4 linked regions of the Homo sapiens genome follow. The protein of the gene in region 1 purifies or fractionates together with the protein of each later gene. This does not show direct contact. Each region holds a gene or a part of one and is shown on either strand. Other genes may lie near its edges.

Region 1 (3,500 bases):
ACATTCCTTTTTAACACTCCAATTGTTGTTTCTGCTCAAGTGAACATCTTGGCTTAAAAAGGGGGAAAATGTACAGCTCCTCTCAACAAAGACTTCATGCCCAACCTATTTGTCATACTACTAATTAATACACTCTAAAGGAGAATAACCCAAGGCTGGGGGGCCCAAGAGAGAGGAAAGAGACACAGAAATGCCAACCCACCTCCGGTGAGATGCATAAGTCAAAACCCATTCATCTTCGACAGGCCCATGTTTAAAAAGGTCACAGAGAGGTTAATGATGAGCCGCGGAATTTCGAGATGTAAATAGCCTGCTGCAGAAGCTGGGTCTGCTTTGGCCCAACTGTGGGAGTGTTTGTACAACTTCACCCCATTTCACAGCAACCAGTCCGGCTTTCACCCCTCCCCTCCAGCCCTCCAGCCCTCCAGCCCTGAGGCTGGACAGACACTGGGCTGAAGAGGACCCAGTTCGGGACACACCTCTGCAAGGGTAGGAAGGAGGGCACACTTACCCAGTGGCTTGTACTCGTCGCGAGGAGACAGCCGAGAGTAGGGAGGTGGCGGAGATTCTGGAAGACAGGAGACAGCATGTCACTGCCAGGGTTGGGGAGCTCACACCTCAGGTTCTACATGCTTTTAATTACTGGTTTCCCAAATAATAAACTCAGCCTCCAGGAAGCCCTCCCTTTGTCCCACCTCCTCTGCTGCCCAAATCCCCTCAACAGTTAAAGCCGCAGGCTTGGGGCACAGACAGATATGGGCTCAATCCCAGCTCTGCCACCTTTGGCTGTGTGACCTCAAGCAACTTACTTCACCTCTCTGAGCCTGTTTCCTCAGCTCTAAAATGAGGATAATAATCATCTAGACCTCCCAGGTTTGCTGGGATAATGTATGTAAAATGCTTAGTGCAGCTCTTGGCCCTGTCCAAAAACACCTCCATAAACAGTAACTGTTACTACTTTAACAAGAGAAACGTGAGTGCAGGGAAAGTCAGAGCCAGGGTTGCTGGATAAAATACCGGATGCTCAGTTACATTTGAGTTTTGGATAAACATGGCATCATTTTGTAGTATAAGTGTGTCCCTTTCAATATTGGGGGTGTACTTATACTAAAATATGGTGTGTTGTTTATCTGATACTCGAATTTAACTGGGCATCCTGCATTTTATTTGCTAAATTTGGCAAGCCTAGTGTGAGTGCAAAGGCCCAGACACAGAAACTCGTGTCCAAACAAGCTGCATTAGAGCTAGCATTCCTAGGTGCAGGGGAGGACAGTAGAAAGGGTTAGGACCCAAAAGGCCAAACCCAGCTATCTCAATAGGCCTTAAGCCAGTCACTTCCAGCTGTTGGCCTCAGTCTCCCCTTTTGTAAAGGACAGGGGTGGAACACAAGCTCTCTACAGCTCAGATGCTATGATTCCTTATTGTCTATGATATTTTTCTTTGGGTTTCATTTGCCTAAAATACTTCTCCTTAAAAACATATACTTTGCTTTCAGAAGAATTCCTTAGCTTCTTGCTTTATGGGAAGTAACAATTTGCTAAACTAAGTAACAATTTGCATGAATGAAATGACCCTTCATTTTCGGTAAATGAAACTAAACACAATCAAATCGCAAACTAAAACAAACTCTCAGTGGTAATAACTATTATTAAGCGGGTATCAGTAATGACACAAGGGGTAATAAGTGTTTTTCACAATTGTAATAAGCCACAATTAGTTACAGGAGCATTTGTTTTGCTCCATACACCCAATGAGGCCTCACCTCTTCCCCACCCCGGCTTTTCCAGCTCAAAGTTACTTCCAACAAAGTCAAAGCTCTGAGGTTTAGAAACAGAGACTTTCTGTGGACAGAAATTAGGGAGAAGGAAAAGTGAATCACAGAGTAGCCACTGAGAGAGACGCGAACATTTGCTCGGTGTCTACGTTGTGTCTCACTCCATGCCAATCACTTTCAATTTTACTATTTTAGACCTCAGGTACAGAGTAGTTAATTATGCTCATCAGGCACCTATTTTTATTTAATCCTTTCTCAAAATACAAAAATTAAATGAGATGACATTATTATCCCCATTTTACAGATGAGAAAACTGACTTGCGCATGTTCCCCGAGCCAGTCATGGTGGAGCTGGGATTCCAGTCCAGGCCTGACTCTGCTCTGCCACCCAATAAGGTGGAATCAAGAGATGCCCTGTCTTACACCCCTTCATCCCCGCTGGGTCTGGGACACCACCTGCACAGAACGCGCTCACTAAATGTGGACACAGACAACTGGGATGAGGATAATGGTAAAGTTGAATGCATCTGTGGCCAAAGATGTGCAGAAAGAGGATCTAGGGGGCTCTCAGGCCTAGAGGCCAGCCTTGAGTGAGGACCAGCCTCTCAGGATAAGAGGCAGGGCATAGGAAGGGCTGGAGTTCCACAGGAAAAGAGAATTGAGGCCAGTGTTTCCACTGTACAGAGAAGGAGACTGTGGCCTGGTGAGTGGAAGTGACTCCCTCAGGAGCTAGGTATCGAGCCAGAACCAAAGCCAGGTCTCTGACCTCCATGCCCTTTCCACCACCCCCATGAACTTATCAGAAAGCCTGCAATTCCTTAGGGTTACTTTTGCAAAAATCTGACTGGCTGAGGTCTAGGCCACACATGGCATGGAGCTCTGAACATCTGCCCCCAAGATTTGTCCCCAAAGGTGAATCTTGACAACTATGGGCAGTAGTGGCTGGAGTCAAGCCTCTGTAACCAATGCCAGCATCTCTTCCAGGGGCTGCTTACCTGGGACTCAAAAGGTGGAAGGCAGGAAAGGCTCATGAAGTCCCACCTGGAAGAGCTACCTGGGCCTTGAGTTGTGACACCTGCTACCCATGGCCATAGCTGAGTTGGGAGTTCCAATGTTGTGAGATAGAAAGAAAATCTATGAACCTGAACCATGAGACATGCCAGCTAGTGGAGCACTACAAACCGTTCAGGAGGGACCTCACCAGGCTCCCATTAGCTCTGGCAAAATAGTATGCACACAACTGTTTAACAACTGCAGGGACTGAAAGCTAATCACTAAATTCCATTGTAGGCAACTAAAAAAGTATGAAGGCTTTAGACTCCACCCCACAACACAAGGATTTAGAGTGTCAAAGACAGAAGAGGCCTTGGGGTTCACCCAACTCAATTCCTTCTTTTCACTGATATGAAACTAAGGTCCCACTTGCTGAAGGACCTGCCCAAGGCCACACATGAAGGTAGCTGCAGGTGTTACAGGGGAGGCCAGTTACAGACCAATATCAGGTGACCCTTTCCAAAAATTGAGATATAATTCACATACCCTAAGATTCATCCTTTTTAAAAATATACCATTCAGTGGTTTTTGAGTATATTCACAGTGTTGTGCAACCATCAACCACCATCTAAACACAAGACATTTTTTTTATCGCAAAAAGAAACACCATCCCCATTGGCAGTCACTTTCTAGACCCCAACCCCAAAACCCTGGGCAACCACTAACTTACTTT
Region 2 (5,540 bases), on another chromosome or scaffold:
GGGAAAAGAAACGATTGAGCAATATAGCTCCCACTTTGGAGTATTAGCATGCATGACATTGTAACTCACATGAAGGGCAGCAATCCGGGACACGTGGCCTGTTAGTGTACATGTAAAGCTCCTCTGGAAGAAGGAAGAAGGACTGGTTTTATTGTTTTGTATTTTTTATTTTTTTTGAGACGGAGTTTCACTCTTGTTGCCCAGGCTGCAGTTCAATGGCGCAATCTGGGTTCACTGCAACCTCCACCTCCCGGGTTCAAGTGATTCTCCTGCCTCAGCCTCCCAAGTAGCTGGGGTTACAGGCACGCGCCACCACGCCCGGCTAATTTTGTATTTTTAGTAGAGACGGGGTTTCTCCATGTTGGTCAGGCTGGTCTCAAACTCCTGACCTCAGGTGATCTGCCTGCCTTGGCCTCCCAAAGCACTGGGATTACAGGCATGAGCCACCACGCCTGGCCAGGAAAAGTTTTATTTCTTCGGAATACTAGAAGCTAGCACTTCACCTAATATATGATAGGTTTTCCCGAAGGATAAGTAGTCCTTTCTTATACACAGAGTTTCCAAATAAAATATATAATGAAAGAAGCTGAGCAGACAAAGTTGAAGGTGTAAATCAGAAAGCCCAAGAAGCAGATATGATCTCAAGGAAAGCAGTAGAGAGAATAGCAGGTGGAACAGAAAAGGGTGGGGGGGGTCCTTTCAACTTCAAGAACTGGGTATAATTTACATATTTTGCTATTCTCACTAAGTATCTGTCAAATGATTCACTTTAGTTGCCATACCAACTAAGGAACTCTAATTAGGAACAAACAAACTAGGAATAAGGAACAAACAACTCTAATGTGATTTGTAACGAAAAGACTCCAATGACCATGTGGATCATTAAATTGGTAAGCGCAGGCAGCAACGGGCTGCCTGGATGGAGGTTTCCTTTTAGGCAGGTGAGGAGCAAAACTATATCAACACCTACTTATCATTTCTTAATGTGAATCACTCACAAATCAGAAAAGAAAACAAATAAAGCTTTCATTGAAAACATAAAACCAGTGCCCCAAGTCAATGTCTACAAATGAAGGTGTTGGCAAAAAGATTCCCAGTTAGTTCATTGATAAGGTTTTCCTTCTTACTCTCAGCATAAGCCAAGAAGCAGGTATCAGGCATAGATTATCTGTAATAAACAATATTGTGCCGATGGGTGATAAAGGTAGAGTTGCAGTAATATTGACTTAATATTCCCCAAAGCTCATCCTTTCCCAAACATTTTGGCTGGCCTACTAAAGCAATACATTGATTTGTGTGAATTTCATCTTCTTTCACTTCTTCTGAGCACCACTGTGAAGTACTGTTGATCGGCAAAATTACCAAAAGCTGAGCATCCAACGGAAGAAATTTAGAACCCTTAAAAACCACAAAAGGGATAATCAACAAGAAAATGAGTGTAGATGAAGCAGAGTTTCATATCTCCCTAACCATTTTCTCTCTTGCGGTTCTTTTTGCTCCTTATTCATTCATTCTTTTTCGAGAAGAATAATTCTGAAAATTAAACTAATGTGTTATTTTTTCCATAATGTATGATCCTGCTTCTAAACCCTGTTCACAGACCTAAGGAAAGAAAAATAAAAAATCAACCCAAGACTAACAAACGTATATCCCAACTCTCAGATGCCAAGCCTTCTTTTTGTTCTTTTCTTTTCTTTAGTTCAAGACAGAGTTTCACTATATTGCCCAGGCTGGTCTCTAACCCCTGGTCTCAAGTGATCTTCCCCCTTGGGCTCCCAAAGTGCTGGGACTGCAGGCATGAGCCACCATGCATGGCCAAGGCTTGTTTTTCAATGTAGACGTGCTGTTTAGTAAGGGCATGCTTTGTTGAAACATACAAATGAGCATATTGCTTAAATAAGCAAGTATGTAGACCAATAATGACAACTTGTTTTAAATAGTGTTCTTTACTGTGTTATTATATCATGATACACTGTCACATGACATGGTTGAGTTTAAAGGACTATTTTGGCATATGCTCCATTCCTCTCTCAAAATTCTAAAAGCCATTTAAACAGTAATTTATACCAGATATTCCTATTATTGCCCTTGGTAATTAGTTATGTTAGCAGCTCTGAGGAATGAAGTTCTAACTAACCTATTTTAGAATCTTGCTTTGCTAAAGCTTTGTCAGGATTCATCCTCACATCTTCTTGCTACTAACTCAATAAACTCATTTAATTTTCCTTAAAGCTTGAAATAGACTTCTAAGTATATATCTAACAAAAAAAATTGTATTTCTCTACTTTTTGAAATGAAATGTCCTTATACTGCATTCTCTTTCCCCAGTTCCACTGTACCACAGTTTAAACAGTAGGTAAATGGAAGCTACAGAAGGTTACTTCCCCCTTTTACATACCAAAAAGTGGCCCAGTGATGGATGGGGCAGGCAGTAGAATGGGATGTTTCCCAGCCCATATCAGGCACTACCAAATGTCTGTGACAACCTGCCACAGGTGGGTCCTGCAATTGTCCAGGTGTAGCATCTGTGCTACCCAGATGGTCACTGGTGAGGGGAAGTCTTCTCCAGCATAAGGGGAGCTGCAGGGCAAGTGTAACTGCAGAACTATCAGACACTTTGAAGCTTGCTGTCTAGCAGAACAAGACTTACTGCAAAATGATTTCAAATACACATGGGCAATGGCATTAAGTAAAACTGAATCACATTAGAAAGTTATTACTTTGATTGTCTTTCAATTAATCGGATTGTGACAAGGAGTCTCAAATTGGTATTGGCATGTCTCTTGCACTCACTTAACACCCACAAATCTCAAATTTTTCAGAGTAGGCATCAGACTCAGCATAATATCCATGCAGAATGTTATTATTTTTTCTTTTGCACTTTATGATAACCTTCTATTTAGAGCAAGTGATACCCTTTCCCCACTTAAAGTTCAAAGCGTCTTTAAAATGAACACTTGGTAAGCAATTTTAAAAGGTAAATAGAAGGAGATAGTCATTTTTTAATGTGATTTTATCATTTAAAAATATGCAAAAGAATAATTTTTTAATGTATAAATACAATAGTTTCTAACACTGTGCAGTCCAGCGGGTTAATCACTAGCCACACATTGCCATGAGCAAGTAAACTGTGGCTGGTGTGAATTGATATATGCTATAGGTGTAAAATACACACAAGATTTTGAAAATTTACTTCAAAAGCAAAAAGAATGTAAAATTTACATTAATAATTTTTTAATCGATTATACGTTGAAATGACAAAGATGGTATGTATTTGGTTGAATATCTGTTAAAATTAAATCTACTTTTACGAAACTTTTTGGGTTTTTTCATGTGTTTGTTTTTAAGGTGGCTACTTGAAAATTTTAAATTACATGTGATGCACATGTTTCTATTGGACAACACCGGTTTAACCAAATGACTGCACTCCACAAGAGGGCACCACAGGAGCATACAAAATTTAAAAGCTGCTTTTTTGGATGTCAAGTTTTTAAGCCTTAAATTACAGGATGCTGAAATAATCTAGAAAGGAAATTAATATTTAATATTCAGCAAAAGGTGCCTTTTTAAAGGAGCACTTTTATGGCTAAAAATAGAGTAACTGAAGACCACAAATTCCAACCCTCCAAAACTGTAGGCAACCATTCTCTGTCTCTTTTGCTTTACCCCTCAGAGAAAAGTAACTAACTACCAACACTACTAAAATAAATCCCATCCCTTATTTAAATGTCTATCTAAAATGGCTGTTCTGATATGGGAAGACTACACAGGTGCCAGCATGTGCTTGTTTAGGACATAAGTAACCAACAGCATGTGTGTACACTGTTCAGTCACTCATTACTGGTTAGCGTTTCATGCTCGAAATAAGAACGTGTCTCCAGACACCTTCCTTATGCTTGGGATTTCCTGTGGGGTCATGACTTACTGCTAAAGTGCTGTCTCCAACATTGGTGGTGATGAGCCCTTCGATAGTGCCATACTCCACGTCTCGGGGATTGAGGCGTTCTTGGTTGCGCCTTTTAAATTTTCGGAGAGCAACTCCCAGCAGGCAGGCTAAAAGACATACTGCGAACACTACAGAGAGAATAATGAGGCCAACCTCCAAGTGGAAATTCTGTGTTCCAGGGAAGGATTTTCCTGGAGTTGGAGGGAAAAGGGGGAATTAGTTGTAAGGATCACTGCTTACTTATTATTAGCATAACCAATATCCTAACAAGTAGCTCCTGATCCTGACCACACAGTCTCACAACTCACGAAGTATTAAAACTAAAACACTTCCTAATGCCTGGCCAATGGCCCAGACATTTTAACCATCATTCAATTAGACACAACTAGAATTTGAAAAAATTCCACTGAGAATCAATTGCATTAATGTATGAATGTGAGAGTGCTTTTAAAATATAAAGTACTGTACAAATCTTTGATATTACTCTCATTAACTTGGATTTGGTATGTTTCGCCATCAAGCCCTTACAGACACTGTACTATCCTTAAGAGAAAGGGCTACCTGAGCTAAAACCAAATTACCCATCTGTGGTCTCTGTCTTTAATATATCCTGGGTGTCTACTGCTGGTTTCTCACTGATTTTTTTACATCACAATTTCTGCCTAGGAACCCATTCATTCCTCTCTTCATTTACTCGCTTATTCAGACATTCATTCACTGATTCACTCCCTGGGTTCAGACCTCTCCATGACATTATGTCATCAGGCCCTGTTCTTCCCTACAGAGGCCTTACCCATTTCCATATTACTGGTCTCTTCAGCCATCCAATCACAAGCTTAACTTCCTTTACGTATTTGTTTAACTTTCCAAGCCCAACTAATCAACAGCTTGGCATACATCATACTCCATGGCATATGTCATTTGCATGAGAAAGTGTAAAACTAACAAAATGCAACGCTGAATTATAAATACTGTGGCCACGCTAATCAGATTAGAATGTCCTTAAATTCAAAAAAAAAAATCTTCTATTAAAACTCAAGGTCTAGCAGAGTGATCTGCAGATTAGAAACTTCACAGTTGGTATAATAATGTTTGTATGAATTCAGACATTTGTTTATGTCCATCCACCCAATTAATAAAAATTTAACTCACAAAGTATAACAGTAAATTTTATTCCATCAAGGACCCTTTTAGTTTTAACCATGTAAATACTTGATCTCCTTTAAAACCCTCTTTGATTATTCAATCCTATTTGCTTGTCAGAATTTAACCTTTTCCATATGCCTTAAAGTCATCACCATAACTTCAAAATTACTAGAACATGATCTTGCATCAGCTTTTTTGTTCTTCTGCCTCCTTTCTTGCTGGCTGACATTTCTAGTTTTGGATGCTCGTCGTTACCTCTCCTCCACTTTTTGGTTTGTTTCTTTTTTCTGAGTGCAAAATTAAATAACTAAACCTATTAAAAATGTACTATATGGTAAGAGAATAAATTTGGCTTGGAATGAGTTTACATAAATGTTTGCAGAGACTTTAAGATTGCAATTTAGGGCTCATTTAATAGGGAAACAGTTTCAGAGCTGGACTGGTTTCC
Region 3 (5,540 bases), on another chromosome or scaffold:
TCTTTTGCAGTAAGTTGCTCTGCTAGCCGGGATGCTCCCTTTCCTTTTCTCTAGGGGGCAGATAATTTTTAGGCCATCTGCTGAAACTTGGTAGGCTTTTTGAGGGTTTAAAGGGAATGTATTTTTAGTTTCCATTTATGCCTTTATCATTAAACTCGAAGACATGTTTATGCTTCATGTTCTTTAACCATGTAGAGGAAGCAAGGGAAGAGTTGAGAGAACAGGTTTATGACGCCATGGGAGAAAAAGAAGAAGCCAAAAAAACAGAAGACAAGTCTTTGGCAAAGCCTGAAACTGATAAAGAACAGGACAGTGAAATGGAGAAGGGTGGAAGAGAAGATATGGATATAAGTAAATCTGCAGAGGAGCCACAGGAAAAAGTTGACTTGACTCTAGATTGGTTAACTGAAACCTCTGAAGAGGCAAAAGGAGGAGCAGCACCAGAAGGACCGAATGAAGCTGAGGTCACTTCTGGGAAGCCAGAACAGGAAGTACCAGATGCTGAGGAAGAAAAATCAGTTTCTGGAACTGATGTCCAAGAAGAGTGCAGAGAAAAAGGAGGTCAGGAGAAGCAGGGAGAGGTAATTGTGAGCATAGAGGAGAAGCCAAAAGAAGTTTCAGAAGAGCAGCCTGTGGTGACTCTAGAAAAGCAGGGCACTGCAGTGGAGGTAGAAGCAGAGTCTTTAGACCCGACAGTCAAGCCAGTGGATGTGGGTGGGGACGAGCCAGAGGAGAAGGTAGTTACCTCTGAAAACGAGGCAGGAAAGGCGGTTCTTGAACAACTGGTAGGTCAAGAAGTACCACCTGCTGAAGAGTCACCAGAGGTGACAACAGAGGCTGCAGAGGCCTCAGCTGTAGAGGCTGGATCAGAAGTCTCTGAAAAGCCTGGGCAGGAGGCTCCAGTTCTCCCTAAGGATGGTGCAGTCAATGGACCGTCAGTTGTAGGAGATCAGACTCCTATTGAACCACAGACTTCTATAGAAAGACTGACAGAAACAAAAGATGGCTCAGGACTAGAGGAGAAGGTCAGGGCAAAGCTGGTTCCTAGTCAGGAGGAGACTAAGCTGTCTGTAGAAGAGTCTGAGGCAGCTGGAGATGGGGTTGATACCAAGGTAGCCCAGGGAGCTACTGAGAAATCACCTGAAGACAAAGTTCAGATAGCTGCTAATGAAGAGACACAAGAGAGAGAAGAACAGATGAAAGAGGGTGAAGGTAACCGGGATATGCAAGAGCTGCAGTGGGTGGAGTACATTCTGGATTTGACTCACTAATTATGGGTAAAAGTCAGCCTTCCATTCAGGATTTTCCGTCTGCCTTTGGATTAGGAAAGGGCTAAATGAAAAGGGGGGTAGTTTAACAAGGTCGTGATAGTCAAGTAAGTTCAATCAAAAGCAGCAAGTCTTCTTTAGCTGGCTTATAAACTAACACTTTTACTAACTGCAAAATAGGCCTTCTGTGTGATTTCTGAGACTTGGCTAGCTATCAGTAACTTGTTGCAGCATACTAGCCAATAAAGTGGGATGGAAAAGGTAGATGAGGGGTGGGGTAGGTAGGGAAATAGTGGGCTAGGCTGGCAGAGAATGCTGAATGGATGTTCACTTGCATGCCTCTGGATTTTAAAATTATTGTTCACATGACTCCTTTTCTGTGCGTTGGGAAGCAGCTACAGAGCAGTAGAATCCACTGAATTGGTACACTGAAGCAGGCATGCCATTTAAATGAAGGCAGTTAACCTTGACTGTTGTATCACCAGAGTTAAAGAATTCTGGTGCCCCTCTTTAAGTCTTCAGGAAGTGTTTAGAGGCTTATTCACATTAGTTAAAACAGGCCCCCCCCACCTTCCCCAAGGCAACAGAAAACATAACCATTAGCTCTCTTCCTGTTTTCCTTCCTCATTTCATGCTTGCTTCGGCTGCTAAACTGAATTTTTGTTACTTAGAATATTATAAAGTGTGGATGCTTTCTATAATGCTATTGGTCTAAGTGTGATTAAATTTCATTAAGGTGTATAAGCCTCTAATTATTACATAACTGGCACGTCTGACTTTTGCTATCATTTGAGGATTCTACTGTATATAAGTTTCATCTAACATTGGCATTAATAACCACAGGTATATTCCAACTAATTGTTACTTCTTGTAATTGCCAGACTACTTCAAGAGTTCTCGTAAGTTTTAGATTTTCAGAGACCCATCTTCAATACTTTGAACTCATTCTGGTAAACTTCCTTCTACCTATGTGCAGGTCCCTGTACTCCAGCCAACACAGGCTCAGTAACTGGAAATGAATTGGCTAAAATGGTAGCACCATTGGGTTTCTTAATGGAGCTTTAGGAGTTCTTTATGGAAAAAAGCACAGAACTAAATTCCTCAAAAAACAAACAAACAAAACCACACACACAAAAAAACAAAACTCCCATGTCTTGATCTTAATGATTGTGAGCAAGGATGGTAAAAAGCTCTGCTGGCTGACCCCTAAGACCTTGAATGGTAAGCTACAATACAGATATCACAGTCCCTTACAGATTGTTCGAAAACTCGTTGGATCATAATTAACATTGTTAGAACTCTCATACATTACATCTGATCCTAAAACAATACTATGTGATAGGTAGTATTGCCCAAGTTACAGTGATGAGGTTGAGGTTTAAAGGTTACATGACTTGTTTAGGGTCATAATACTGAATCTGAACCCAGATCTGCCTTGAATATATTATTCTTCCCAAGTTACCACACATTGAAGAAGACAGTGTTCATCCTTTTCCTACACCCACTGCTTAGAAATTTTGTCGTGGGCTGGGCGCAGTAGCTTCACACCTGTATCCCAGCACTTTGAGAGGCCGAGGTGGGCAGATCACATGGTCAGAAGTTTGAGACCAGCCTGGCCAATATGTTGAAACTTTGACTCTACTAAAAATACAAAAATTAGCTGGACGTGGTGGCATGCGCCTGTGGTCCCAGCTACTTGGGAGGCTGAACCAGAAGAATCGCTTGAACCCGGGAGGCAGAGGTTGCAGTGAGCTGAGATCATGCCGCTGTGCTCCAGCCTGGGCAACACAGCGAGTCTCTGTCTTCCAAAAGAAAAAAAAAATCTGTCACTTATTTAAAAAGTTAACTATATTTTAAAAGCCCCAGGCTTTTCATATGCTGCATTTTTTGGTGTTGTATATCAGATACTGTTCTGCTTGTAAAGACAATACAGTTTTCCATATTTTACAAAAGAAGAAATGGGAGAAAGGGGTTTAAGTAACTTGCCCTAGTCACACAGTAAGGAGAAGCCTGCTACCCAAACTTCTGGCTTGAGTACTCAACCACTTACTTTCTGTGCTTTATTTCCCTTTACGTGGCAGCACCATTCTGCAGAAAACTTCCAAGCAGTTTTTTTCACTTAAAAATTAAAACCCTGTTTACTGCCACCTCTTGACTCTTTGCCATGTGTTGGGCTGTACATTTGCTTCTAATAAAGATAATTGGTCTGTTCTTTTTCTCTTTGAATCGGGTCTTGCTCTTTTGCCAGGCTGGAGTACAGTGGCATCGCAGTCATGGCTCACGACAGCCTCAAACTCCTATGCTGAAGCCATCTTCCTCCCTCAGTCTCTCAGGCAGCTGAGACTATGGGTGTGTATCACCATGCCCAGCTGGGGTGCAGTGGTGCGGTCTCGCTCACTGCAACCTGCATCTCCCAGGTTCAAGCGATTCTCCTACGTCAGCCTCCTGAGTAGCTGGGACTAAAGGCACATGTCCCCAGGCCCGACTAATTTTTTTGTATTTTTACTAGAGATGGGATTTCACCATGCTGGCCAGGTTGGTCTCGAACTCCTGACCTCAGGTGATCCACTAGCCTCAGCCTCCCAGAGTGCTGGGATTACAGGTGTGAACCATTGCACCTGGCCCACCATACACCATTATCTTCTCATATCCACATTTCCAAGTGGGTCCGGGCTTAGTTCCCCAAAGTTAGACCAGATGGATGGTCTTATTAACTCTGCCCATCCTCTAGCAGAATATGCAGAAAAGCTGAAGTAGATTTACATATGTAGGATAATTGATAGAAAAGTAAATACTTCATCTTCCCAATTTGTAGGAAAAATTAAATTGATATTGTTATCTTCTATTCTTACCTGGTATCTCTTCCTACTCATACCAGAATACTAGAAGACAACCTCTAATTTGAAACAAAATATCTTAATTACTTGGAAGTTTTACATCAAATTTTTAAATTAAAATTCCTATAATTGCTTCAGAAGAATATTACTGGTTCCTCTTGAGGAATCTGTACCATCTTCAAGGAATGGTGGGGAGCTAGGTTAAGGAGAAAGCCATCGCCATTACTTTTTTTTTTTTTTTTTTTTTTTTTTTTGAGACAGAGTCTTGCTCTGTCACCCAGGCTGGAATGCAGTGGCGTGATCTAGGCTCACTGCAACCTCCGCCTCCTAGGTTCAAGTGATTGTTCTGCCTCCGCCTCCCGAGTAGCTGGGACTACAGGCATGTGCCACCACGCCTGGCTAATTTTTTGTATTTTTAGTAGAGACGGGGTTTCACCGTGTTAGCCAGGATGGTCCCAATCTCCTGACCTGGTGATCTGCCCACCTTGGCCTCCCAAAGTGCTAGGATTACAGGTGTGAGCCACCGCGCCTGGCAGCCATTGCCATTACTTTAAAACCTTTCCCAACTTGTGCCCAGGTATCAATGGCAATGCCCTGATGTCCTCAGTAAATTTGTTAAAGTATCTTTTTTTTTTTTTTTTTTTTTTGAGACGGAGTCTTGCTCTGTCACCCAGGCTGGAGTGCAGTGGTGCGATAATCCGCTCACTGCAAGCTCCACCTCCTGGGTTCACGCCATGCTCCTGCCTCAGCCTCCCAAGTAGCTGGGACTACATGCGCCTGCCACCACACCTGGCTAATTTTTTTGTTTTTTGGTTTTTTTTTTTAGTAGAGACGGGGTTTCACCATGTTCGCCAGGATGGTCTCAATCTCCTGACCTCGTGATCCGCCCGCCTCGGCCTCCCAAAGAGCTGGGATTACAGGCGTGAGTCACCGCGCCTGACCCTGTTAAAGTATTTTCTAAGCTTCTTTGAAAACGGAATCTCTTTGTGGTTGCTGCTGATAAAACTCCTTTGACCTGACGATTGCTCTAAGTCCTAATTGCCATATTTATATTCCCATAGTAAGAGTGTTTGGAGATAGTGTTTGAGCTTTTTTGCTGGTGTTAAAAATGCATAATGAAAGATGGCAGAGAGAGGCATATTATATCCAATTCATGAGTTGTTTGTGTTAACAGAAAGCTTATTTTAATCACTTAACATTGTTGATTTGTCTAATCACAGTAGCGCTATTGATTAGGAGCCTGACCTTTAGATGGTTGACTTGTGAGTGTATTCAATATGGTGAAATATGGTGTTGATATATGGCTGCAGATTTTAGAGGTGTCATTAGCAAAGGTATAGGAGTAAAATAGGGGTTATAGTATTCCTTACTCAAATTCTGTATGTGCTAGAGCTGGCTGGAGTCTGTGGCATGCTCATTGGTGTAAGTCGGTAAG
Region 4 (5,540 bases), on another chromosome or scaffold:
TCTCAGTTAAAAATGTTCAAAACCAGGGAAGTAGGACTTGTGTTCCTCTATAATCCTGAGCTTTGGGTATTAGTTGGGCCCTGAGAAACATTTTTAAAAATTTCAAATAAAAATTCTTATGCCAAATTCTGGTGAGTTAAGACCAAACATTAACCTGAAATGGATTACAGACCTAAATGGTAAAGCTATAAGCTTCTAAAAATACATGGGAGAAATCCTGAAGATCTGGAATAGGCAAAGATTTCTCAGAAAGGACACAAAGCTTAAATGAATAAAATTATGAATTAAACTCCATCAAAATTTAAAGCTTTGGCACTTCAATGGTACCATTAAGAAAACTGATAAGCCAACAGAAAGAGAGAAATATCTTTAATACTTGTATCCAACAAAAAATTTTGGTCCAGAATATACAAAGAACTCTTACAACTGAATAATAAAAAGACAAACAATCCAATTAAAAATGGACAAATTATTTGAACAGACAGTTCACAAAGGAAAATATACAAGTGGCCAATACATACACCAAAAGATCTTCAAACATCATTAGTCACCGGTGAAATCCAATCAAAACCAAAATGATACTACCACTCATCTACTAGAATGGTTAAAATTAAAAACATGGACAATTGTTTGCAAGGATGTGGAACAACCAGAACTCTCATACATGGCTGGTGGAAATGTAAAAATGTTTGTTACAAGCAGTTTGCAATTTTGCAGCTTCTTACCAAGTTAAACATATACTTACTATATGTACTTAGAAGTACAGTTACCTGTACTATAACTGTACTCTTAAGTATTGACTCAAGAAAAATGTAAGATATATATGCATATAAATTTTATGTAAATGTTCACAGTAGCTTTATTCATTAGAGCAAAGAACCAGAAACAACCCAAGTTAATAGTTCCACTGCAGGTGAATGGCGACACAAATTGTGTATTTGGTGATATAACATTCATACAATGGAATACTACTCAGCAATACAAAAGGAATGAGCTACTGATACTTATTAATTTTGATAATATCCTGTGCAAAAGAAGGTGCACAGAAAGGACATACTGCATGATTCGGTTTATATGAAACTCTAGAAACATTAAATCTAACCTCTAGTGACCAAAAGCAGATCATTGCTAGGGGGCAATAGGTGGGGAAGATTGGCTGAGATTAAGTACACAAGAACTCTTTAGGATGATGGAAATAATGTTCTATTACATCTTGACTGTGGTAGCAGTTACACATGTATGCAAGTATGTCAAAACTCTATCAAAATGTACATGCATAGTGGTATATCTTATTGTATATAAATTATACCTCAATTAAGTTCACACGCACACACACACACACACACCAGGGTATGGTTTTAACTTTTGGCTTAGAATAGTCCTGATCTATACCATAGGAACACAGTAAGACAGCCATCTTCTTAAATACATTCCCAGCCAAATGGATATATGAGAAGGTGCAGACTCCATGTTGCTTAGACTATTCAAATATAGAATGCACAGCTTTTATTCCTTGGACTTGAGTTCTTTGATTTATGTAACAGAATAACAATGGGACATTATCCTTGAAGTTCATGTCAATGTTATACATAAAAGTGATATGGTAAGGTCTCTCTCATATAATGGCCCTTAAAAAGATCCAAGGAATCCTTCCTAAAGCTGAAAGACATACCAAAAGTAGCATTAAGATGAAGCTTCAGTGTCTATTGATCATTTAACAGCTTTGTCCAAGGTCTGAACTAAGCAATGTTAAATGTCAAAGTTACACAAACAATGTACAAATTTTACAGCAACCCCCTTTCAGATGGTAGTTACATTAGCTGGAGTTAATACTGGTCAAAAGGATAAAAAATTGTCAGCTGATCCAAGATATATTTAAAATAAATAAGTAAAATTTTAAATGAACATGTGTTGAAAACTTAAAACATGTATTAGGCACAATGCGTCATATGCTTCATTTAAACTTTCCCAATTCTTAGACTGTCATGTCCAATTTACATGCAGAGAAACTCAAGCATAAAAAGACTAAGTAACCCGGCCAGGGTGATAGGTAGTAAGTTACAGGATCAACCCAAACTCTTAACTGCTATACTTGTTCCTCTTAAGAAAGGGTGTATTCAAAAGGTGAACTCCTGATGCATTAGACATATAAATACAAAAAATACAACTAAGAAACTAATAGAAGAAAATCCAGGAAAATATCTTTATAATCTATAGATTAGGAAGGACTTCTTACTACCCATAAAGTCAAAATTTTGACATTAAAATTAAGGATTCCTGTACCAAAGTCAAATGACTGAAACGTTGGGGATTATCATCTTAAATACACAAGAGAAATGGAAATCTATCCAAAAAGAGGGGTAAAGGGTATGAATAGGCCAGATATGGAAAGGGAAACCCAAACAGCTAGCAAGGATATGAAGAAATGATCAACCTCCCTAATAAACAGAGAAACATAAATTAAAGCAACTATCAGATTATATTTAGCAACTGAAAAATTAGCAAAATGTAGAATGTTGTACAATACCGAAGGCTGGCAAAAACGTGAGAAAATAGTTCTTTTACATTGTTGGTGAGCGTAAAAAATGGTGTTGCTGTTTTTAAAATAATCTGACAGAATTTAGTAATTATTAAATATGTGATTGACCTATACTCAGCAATACTATGTCTGGACAATACCATGTCCCTAGATATGGTAGTGCTGAGAAACTCTTCCACAGCCATTAGCAACACGTAGGAGGATGTTTATTACAGAATTATTGGTATCTAAGAATTGGAGTCAATCTGGGAATCTGCCATTAGGGGAATTGATAGGTAATTTGTGCTTACTACATAAATGAACTACTGCAAGGTTAAAAGCAATGAACTAGCTGTACATATAGCAACATATCTAGCTATCAAACAATGCTAAGTAAAGAAAGTAAATTATATGTCAGGTGCAGTGGCTCACACCTGTAATCCCAGCACTTTGGGAGGCTGAGGCAGGTGGATCAGCTGAGGTCAGGAGTTTGAGACCAGCCTGGCTAACATGGCAAAACCCCATCTTTACTAAAAATACAAAAATCAGCCAGGCATGGCGGTGTGTGCCTGTAATCCCAGCTACTTGGGAGGCTGAAGCGGGAGAATCACTTGAACCTGGGAGACAGAGGTTGCAGTGAGCTGATATCGCGCCTTTACACTCCAGCCTGGGTGACAAGAGTCAAACTGTCAAACTGTCTCAAAAAAAAAAAAAAAAAAAAAAGAAAAGAAAAGAAAAAGAAAGTAAATGATAGAGCAAAGTAGCACTTATAGCACTTATGTAAATACAAAACACACAAAAGAGGTACAAAATTTTACAAGGCTAGCTACAAAACCAACAGCATATAAAAAACATATTAGATTGGGTCCAAGGTAGGAAGGATAGAGTGAATGGGAGCTGAAATTGGGAATAGTGACCAAAAGTATAATCCAAATGAGAGGATGCCTCTAAATAATACTAATGCTCTGCATCTGAAATATTTTAAGTGATATAACTACATCAACTACTAAATTTGACAGATGTATGCATATGTATTAGAACTTGCCTTTGAGATGATGAAGCATTCTACACATTTTGGTTTTAAGTATAATAAATTTGAAAATTCATGGTATCTAGTTCTTGCTTGTTACCGTCTTAGATAAATATGCTCAAATGACCTAATGAAAAGAATACCGAACTAGGAACCCAAAAAGCTGTGACCTAGTCCAAGCTAACTAGTAACATAAACTTGGCAAAGTCATCTTATCTCTTTGACTGTCTGCTTTACTGCAAAATGGCTTTGGATGATTCTCCCAAATCTCTCCAGTCCAAAATTATTCCACTTCATTTTCTTAATGAATATTTATTCATATAAAGTTATTTTTTGTCTACTCCAATTCCTCCTTCCTTTACTTTCTCCCTCCCAAATAAAGCAAAAGCCAAGTGTATCAAAAGAGATTCAGAAAAGTGATGTAGCAATAGGAGCAAATAGCAACTTAACTTTAGGGTAGAAAGGAGAAAACGTTAAAGAGATACAGTGATTTTGACAGCCTTTTCAAGTATTCAAGGCAGAGCAAGGTTACCCTGAGCCCAGGTTCAGAAAATCTACTCCTTGAAGGATTTCACTACATGTTATTCCATATGTCACTGTATCTGCCTGGCATTACCCCTTCTTAAAACACACATTAAAGTCTCTTCTAGAGTTTCTACTTAAAGACCCTAAATTTCAGCTTATCTGTGTCAGTTTTCAGATAAAAAGTTATTTTGGAAAAGATGAATCTTCCATATTAAAAATATATGATTCCAAGAAAATGAGTTTTTTTCATCAGCAAACTAGTTACACTCAGCACTATCTACTTAAAAAAAAAAAAAAAAACCCAAAACCAAACACTCTGCTAGAATTGTGGATTAAATGAATACAAAGACCTTAAGAGTAAGGGAAATCAGAATATATTTTAGGCCGTGAGCATGAATAGTAACAGATATATAAATAATGGTGTCATATTTTATTAAAAGATAATTGAAATCAGAGTACTTAAAATATCTTAAACATTTAAAATTAGAATATTTTAAAAAGAGAAAACAGAGGACTTTCAATATAGAATAAAACAATAAAAAGAAATTAACATAATTTATAAATTTATCTTCCATTCACATTTAATTTTAAATCTGAATGGGGGAGGGGAAGGGAGAGGGAGGGAATTAAGAGATCACAAAACATCTGTTATGAATAATTTCAGCACAGATGTAGTTGTTACTGCAAAAGAGATGAAGGTTTTCCCAGGTTGCCATACTGTAAGGTTTTCTACAAACATAGTTCATACCTCAACCTCCATGTACCAAGTCTCAATAAATACATAATGTTGATTAGGAGGAGAAATGTGCATATGGACAGATAAATGCAATCCCTATGTATAGAGGGAACGTGTATTAAACAACAGGGAGCTGTTTGAAGAAAGAGAAAAGTAACTTTGTAGAGAATGAAAAAAGCTTAAAGTTTCACAGCTATAATACAAATAGACACTTGAATTCAATTTTTTGCTTTTCCTTTCATAATCTTTCCATTTATCTACATCCATATTATATAATCCAAAAATATGCTTTAACAAAATTAATGAAGTTCTAAAAATTAAGTTGTTTTCTCTGAAAACAATCATAAAGCAAATTTTACTTATTAGAGAGCATTTTGCTACTTAAGTACTGTATTATATTGCCATCTTTTTAAGCAACCCAGTTTTAAGTTAACAGCGTAACCCACCTCCATCAAGGCTAAAATCCAGACATGCTCATAACATATTGAAATTTTTATTTAGTAAAACTAATGTCCTAAAGATGTTTCCTTTAGTGACATAATACTCAAAACACTGCCCCATGCAAAAGAATGATTAGTTTATATGGCAATGCCTACATAATAGATCAAATTTAATTTTAACTAGGGTTGCTACAAAACTTTCTCTACTACATATATTTCTACTTGCTTACTACTTTTAGTTCATATCTAGTTGAATGATTATTTAGCCAGTAATATGTACAACATCTACCC

What was found. The genes of interacting proteins can lie anywhere in the genome.
Region 2: the proteins of SMAD6 (region 1) and ACVR1 purify together in Homo sapiens (affinity purification with western blotting, with the first as the bait; 2 studies listed by BioGRID). This does not show direct contact.
Region 3: the proteins of SMAD6 (region 1) and NASP purify together in Homo sapiens (affinity purification with mass spectrometry, with the first as the bait; one study listed by BioGRID). This does not show direct contact.
Region 4: the proteins of SMAD6 (region 1) and ZEB1 purify together in Homo sapiens (affinity purification with western blotting; one study listed by BioGRID). This does not show direct contact.

What each region holds. Positions count from the first base shown.
Region 1 is NC_000015.10:66,708,736-66,712,235, reverse strand, and holds part of SMAD6 (mothers against decapentaplegic homolog 6), read right to left. Parts: coding exon of another isoform or gene 3,498-3,500; intron 1,842-3,497; exon of another isoform or gene 1,763-1,841; intron 569-1,762; coding exon 512-568; intron 1-511. UniProt on the Homo sapiens protein: Transforming growth factor-beta superfamily receptors signaling occurs through the Smad family of intracellular mediators. SMAD6 is an inhibitory Smad (i-Smad) that negatively regulates signaling downstream of type I transforming growth factor-beta.
Region 2 is NC_000002.12:157,774,206-157,779,745, forward strand, and holds part of ACVR1 (activin receptor type-1 precursor), read right to left. Parts: intron 4,138-5,540; coding exon 3,926-4,137; intron 1-3,925. UniProt on the Homo sapiens protein: Bone morphogenetic protein (BMP) type I receptor that is involved in a wide variety of biological processes, including bone, heart, cartilage, nervous, and reproductive system development and regulation.
Region 3 is NC_000001.11:45,607,126-45,612,665, forward strand, and holds part of NASP (nuclear autoantigenic sperm protein), read left to right. Parts: intron 1-195; coding exon 196-1,212; intron 1,213-5,540. UniProt on the Homo sapiens protein: Component of the histone chaperone network. Binds and stabilizes histone H3-H4 not bound to chromatin to maintain a soluble reservoir and modulate degradation by chaperone-mediated autophagy.
Region 4 is NC_000010.11:31,324,801-31,330,340, reverse strand, and holds part of ZEB1 (zinc finger E-box-binding homeobox 1), read right to left. Parts: intron 1-5,540. UniProt on the Homo sapiens protein: Acts as a transcriptional repressor. Inhibits interleukin-2 (IL-2) gene expression. Enhances or represses the promoter activity of the ATP1A1 gene depending on the quantity of cDNA and on the cell type.